Linked DNA regions of Homo sapiens: region 2 is linked to region 1. Evidence: fine-mapped expression QTL. A gene starts in region 1. The other region holds a variant in brackets. All regions are shown on one strand. Distances are from middle to middle. Region 1 holds the start of LIMK1 (LIM domain kinase 1). Region 2 overlaps LIMK1 (LIM domain kinase 1).

What was found. PIP is the estimated chance that this variant, and not a neighbour inherited with it, causes the effect. A credible set is the group of variants that fine-mapping cannot tell apart.
Region 2: its variant is the best candidate, but not a certain one, in a credible set for the expression of LIMK1 in whole blood (TOPMed, PIP 0.82).

The regions. Positions count from the first base shown.
Region 1 is chr7:74,081,960-74,084,856 of GRCh38, reverse strand. It overlaps LIMK1 (LIM domain kinase 1), which reads right to left and starts at 1,053. Exons shown (of 16, transcript NM_002314.4): 1 at 812-1,053. The coding sequence starts at 866. RefSeq lists enhancers at 240-509, 996-1,674, 1,570-1,679, 1,675-2,353 and silencers at 700-749, 860-909, 1,030-1,299.
Region 2 is chr7:74,103,999-74,106,895 of GRCh38, reverse strand. LIMK1 (LIM domain kinase 1) reads right to left here. Exons shown (of 16, transcript NM_002314.4): 6 at 916-1,021; 7 at 653-819. Among named protein-coding and RNA genes, the nearest start is that of LIMK1, 22 kb to the right of the region's middle. RefSeq lists an enhancer at 922-1,422. The variant C/T (reference allele first, on the strand shown) is at 1,565.

The DNA.
Region 1 (2,897 bases):
GGCCCTGCCTTGGGGCCAGGTGGATCTAAGTGACAGGTCAGCGAAGGAGATCCAAGGAGGGGCCCCCAGACCCTGTCCTAGGCTGGGGGAGTCCTTGAACCCTAACTGCAGTGCAGTACTGCGCCTTGGGCCCCAGTGAGGGAGAAGGGGCTAAAGAGGAGGTTAGGATGAGTCATGCTCCCAGCCAAGACTGAGGGCAGGCACCGGGTTTGGGGCACGGACAGGGAGAGTGGATGAGGCTCCCGCAGTACACGGCCTCCGGCTTCCTGGACGCCTATCTCCGCTCTACCCATCTGGCCCCCAATCACCGACACCGGGGGGGCAACTACCCAGTTTCCAAATGTACAGAAGGGGAAACTGAGGACCAGGAAGTCAGCGCCTGGCTCAAGGTCACAGAGCCGGGCAGGCGCCCGGCGGCCACTGGGACCCGGGGCTGCGGCTTCCCCAGCCGCTCTTTCTTCCGAGACTGGATAAAGGGTGGCCCCAGGGCGAGGCCCGGGTGGTGGACAGAGCACGCGGATGGAGGCCGACGCGGGGTGGGCAGTGTCTGGGAGTCCTTCGCGGGGGGACGTGGGAGGAGGAAAAAGGGTCCAGGGGCCCCCAGACCCGCAGGAGGGCAGCTCGCCGGGGGCCGGGGAGGGGGATCCCGGGCGGGAGGGGGACAGGGAGGGGCCTGCGGGCTTCGTAAGGACGAGCTCATCCCGGAGGAGGCAGGGGCGCGGCCTCCTGGCAGACCCGGCCCCCTCCCGTGCCCCACGCTGCCCCGGGCACCCCCTCCAGGCCCTCGCCCCACACCCCGCGGCCCGCGCACCTTCCTCTCCCATACGTTCTTCCCTCCAGGTGCAACAAAGTAGCGTCAACCTCATGCACTCGACGGGGGGCGGGGCCCGGCGGGGCTGGGGCTGGGGGCGGCCGGGCCCGCGAGCTCGCCCACCGCCGCCGGCCCGGGGAGGCGGGGGCGGAGGGCGCGGGCCGGGCCGGGCCGGGCCGGGGGCGCCTCTCGGACACCGGCGGGGAAACCGGCTCGGCGCCGCGGCGGCTTGGGGAGCGAGCGGAGGGGCGGACCGAGGCGGGGCCTGTGAGCTGCGGCACGGGGGCGGGGCGCGGGCGGCCGGCGGCGGGAACGGCCCTGCGCGGCCCCGCCCCCACCAGAAAACCCCGCCCCCACGCCCAAGGCCACGCCTCTAGAGGCCACGCCCCGCTGCGGCCCGGCCTGGGGGCGCCGCGAGCTGGCGCGGCGCGCCCCGCCCCTCCCCGCCCCTTCCGCCCTTCATTCATTCTTCTTTCTCCCAGCGACAGGCCTCGGCTGGGAGCTGCGAGGCCCAGCTGTCTCGGAGGGCCGCTAGCTCTGCTGGGGCAGGCCAGGAGGATGTAGGAGCCTAGAGAAGGGGCCTCCGCTTCCCTGCGCGAGGCCCCCACAGACCCAAACCAGCTGCAGCCGGGAACTCGGATCAGAGCTGGAGAGGCCCTGTGGACCCCCAGGACACTGGTGGTCGCCTTGGGGAGGGGAGGGAGGCGGGCCGGGTTTTGTCCCTCTCTCTGAGGCCTGCATTGAGGCCAGGCTGGGCCCGGGGAAGGTGACGGTCCGCGTCTCAGGCCTCGCGAATGAGCAGCACCAGAGAAAGGAGCGAGCCCCTGCCAGGCGGTGACAGGTGTACTCTTCTCAGTGCCGATTACCTGGAGCTGGGGCTGCCCTGCCCAGGGTCCTGGAGGGAGCACGGGTTTGGGCTGAGTCAAGCGTCCAAAGGAATTGGGTGGTCCAGTCCAGCACTGATGGTGGAACGCCCTGCCTAGATGTGGACAATTCTAGAATGCTGGACATGGGCAGGAAGCAACCCTGTCCCCCCTAGGTCTACCTTCCACGTCATCCCTCTGCCCAGGAAGCAGTGACCGGAGTGGAGCCACGTGCCCACGTGAACCCAGTGAACAAGAGGCAGCGCTAGCCCAGCTCCAACTCTAGTCATCATGTTTGTGGGGAGAGGTCTAGGCACGTCTGCAAAGTGGGGGGCACTCACCCCTGGGTGCAAAACAATTACGTGGGGTGGGAAGAAAATACTAGATTTTTTTTTTCTTTTTTTAGATTCGGTCTCGCTCTGTTGCCTAGGCTGGAGTGCAGTGGCGGGATCTCGGCTCACCGCAGTCTCCACCTCCCAGGTTCAAGCAATTCTCCCACCTTAGCCTCCCGAGTAGCTGATATTACAGGCGTGCACCACCATGACCGACTAATTTTTGTATTTTTAGTAGAGATGAGGTTTCACCATGTTGACCAGGCTGGTCCTGAACTCCTGACCTCAGGTGATCCACCCTCCTCGGCTTCCCAAAGTGCTGGGATTACAGGTGTGAGCCACCACGCCTGGCCAGAATTTTTAATTTCTCATGAGAAAGAAGGCTGGGCACAGTGGCTCACACCTATAATCCCAGCACTTTGGGAGGCCAAGGTGGGAGCATCACGTGGGGCCAGGAATTGGAGATCAGCTTAAGCAATGAAGTGAAACCCTGTCTCTTCTAACTTTTTTTTTTTTTGAAATGGAGTTTCACTCTTGTTGCCCAGGCTGGAGTGCAATGGTGCGATCTCAGCTCACAGCAACCTCCACCTCCCGGGTTCAAGCCATTCTCCTGCCTCAGCCTCTGGAATAGCTGGGATTATAGGCATGCACCACCATACCTGGCTAATTTTGTATTTTTAATAGAGACGGGGTTTCTCCATGTTGGTCAGGCTGGTCTCGAATTCTGGACCTCAGGTGATCCACCCACCTTGGCCTCCCAAAGTGCTGGGATTACAGGCGTGAGCCACCGCGCCCAGACTTTTTTTTTTTTTTTTAATTAGCCAGGCATGGTGGCTCATGCCTGTAGTTAGTTACTTGGGAGGCTGAGGTGGGAGGATACTTGACCTCAGG
Region 2 (2,897 bases), 22 kb before region 1:
CCCCCTGCTTTGGGAGGGCCCGCCTGGGACAGTCCAAAGGCTGCCCATCCCAGTGTCTCGGCCTATCCTGGCTCTAGTGGCAGCCCCCAGCTCCCCTCAACCCCTCAGATCCTGCTCTGTCATCCTCTTTTTTTTTGAGACAGAGTCTCACACTGTTGCCCAGGCTGGAGTATAGTGGCGTGACCTTGGCTCACTGCAACCTCCATCTCCTGGGTTCAAGTGATTCATCTGCCTCAGCCTCCTGAGTAGCTGGGACTACAGGCACCTGCCACCAAGCCCGGCTAATTTTTGTATTTTCAGTAAAGATGAGGTTTCCCATGTTGGCCAGGCTGGTCTTGAACTCCTGACCTCAGGTGATCCACCTGCCTCGGCCTCCCAAAGTGCTGGGATTACAGGCATGAGCCACCACGCCTGGCCCCGTCCCCGGCTTTTTAAAAAATGTGTGTTTCCTCTTTTTTTTTGAGAGTGGGTCTTGTTTTGTCACCCAAGCTGGAGAGCAGTGGTGTGATGACAGCTTACTGCAGCCTCCACCTCCCTGGCTCAAGCCTGGGCTGCATTTGTGCAGGGCTGGCTCCCCGACCTAGGTCCCACAGCCCCTGAGCCCCAGCAGGAGTGAAAGCACCCAGCTGAACCGAGGAGCAGGCTGACTTACAAGACAGGTTTCTGCCGGGCAGAGCTGCCCGCCTCCCCGCTGGGAGTATAAGCCGGAGAGCTCAGGGGGCTGGTCTCAGGCCCCAGCCCGTGGCCCAGTGTATCGTGAGGGTCATGCTCGAGGGTCAGCTGGAGCAGGCGGCTGGTTTCCTGAATCAGCAGGTCAATCTGGGGACAGCAGGCATGTGAATGGGGGTGGAGTGGGGAGGGGGCTAGGCATGAAGGCACTACCTCCCGTCCTGCCCCACAGACTCAGGACCGTACCTCGTCCAGGGGCACATTTCGGATGGGCGTGCCATTGATTTCCAAGATCCGGTCTCCGACGTGGATGGAATTCTTCACATCTGGGCTCATGCAGCCCGGATCCACTCTGTGGGTAAGGCAGGGGTCAGGCCAGTGCCCACCTGTCCCTCAGAGCCCCAACAGGAAACCAAGGCGAAGGGCACCAGATCCAGGGTGAGCAGGTGGAGGATTCTACTTCGTGTGACTGGGAAGTAGCAGATGGCCAGAACACCGAGTTCTGGTTTCAGGGGAGGAATTCTGTAATCAATTACTGATGTCTGCCACAGGTGTGAGCTGGAGAAAGGTGGCACGCTTGTAGGCACTGGCCACCCACACAAGATGCTCAGCTGTTCCCATTCAATGGACCATTGTCTCCACCCTGGGGGAACAGATCTATCCTTCCAAATCCCAGGTATGTTTGGTCTCGAATTTTTTTTTTTTTTTTTTTTGGAGACAGAATCTCACTCTGTTACCCAGGCTGGAGTGCAATGGCACAATCTCAGCTCACTGCAGCCTCTGCCTCCTGAGTTCAAGCGATTCTCGTACCTCAGCCTCCTGAGTAGCTGGGATTACAGGTGCACACCACCACACCCAGCTAATTTTTTTTGTATTTTTAGTAGAGACGGGGTTA[C/T]ACCACATTTCCCAGGCTGGTCTCGAACTCCTGAGCTCATGCAATCCGCCCGCCTTAGCCTCCCAAAGGGCTAGGACTGGCCGGGCGCAGTGGCTCACACCTGTAATCCCAACAGTTGGGGAGGCCAAGGTGGATGGATTACTTGAAGTCAGGAGTTTGAGACCAGCCTGGCCAACATGGTGAAACGCCGTCTCTACTGAAAATACAAAAATTAGCCGAGCGTGGCAGTGGGCGCCTGTAGTCCTAGCTACTTGGGAGGCTGAGGCAGGAATTGCTTGAACCTGGGAGGTGGAGGTTGCAGTGAGTCAAGATTCTGCCACTGCACTCCAGCCTGGGTGGACAGAGCGAGACTCCGTCGCAAAAACAAAGTGCTAGGATTACAGACATGAGTCATTGCACCTGGCCTGCCTGGTATGCTTGGGGCAGATGAGTGCCTTGGGTCCCAAAAAGGTCCCGGATTAGTGGCTTCATATCTGACTCCCAAACTCGCCCTGCAAGAGGAGGCCAAGCTCTATTGCTCCTGCATTGGCAGGAGGGAGCTGGCAGCTTGCCCTGAGCCACAATTGCAGGGTGAAGACGGGAAAGAGACCCTCGATCAGTTGCCTATAAGCTAACTCACAAAAAGACCAATTTGCCAAATTTACTTATTTCTTTTAACTCTTCGGTGTTAGGGACCTGGTTTTCTTTTCTTTTCTTTTTTTTTTTTGAGACAGAGTTTTGCTCTTGTTGCCCAGGCTGGAGTGCAATGGAGTGATCTCGGCTCATTGCAACTTCCGCCTCCCAGGTTCAAGTGATTCTCTTGCCTCAGGCTCCTGAGTAGCTGGGATTACAGGCATGTGCCACCATGCCTGGCTAATTTTGTATTTTTAGTACAGATGGGGTTTCTCTATGTTGGTCAGGCTGGTCTTGAACTCCTGACCTCAGGTAATCCACCCACCTTGGCCTCCCAAAGTGCTGGGATTATAGGCGTGAGCTGGTTTTCATTTTGCCTCATAAAAGCTTTTTAGGGAATGCTCACTTTGTCTCTGCCCTAGGTCCTGGAGATGGAAAAGGGGATGGGGGTAAGGCAGAGAGGAGACTGAGAACTTTAAGAAAAACAGGGCCAGGTGTGGTGGCTCATGCCTGGAATCCCAGCACTTTGGGAGGCCAAGGTGGGAGGATTGCTTGAGACTAGGGGTTTGAGACCAGCCTGGGCAGCATAGCAAGACCCCATCTCTATGACATTTTTTACAGAAAATTAGCTGAGCATGGTGGCACACTCCTGTAATCCCAGCTATTTGGGAGGCTGAGGTGGGAAGATCACTTGAGGTCAGGAGTTCGAGACCAGCCTGAG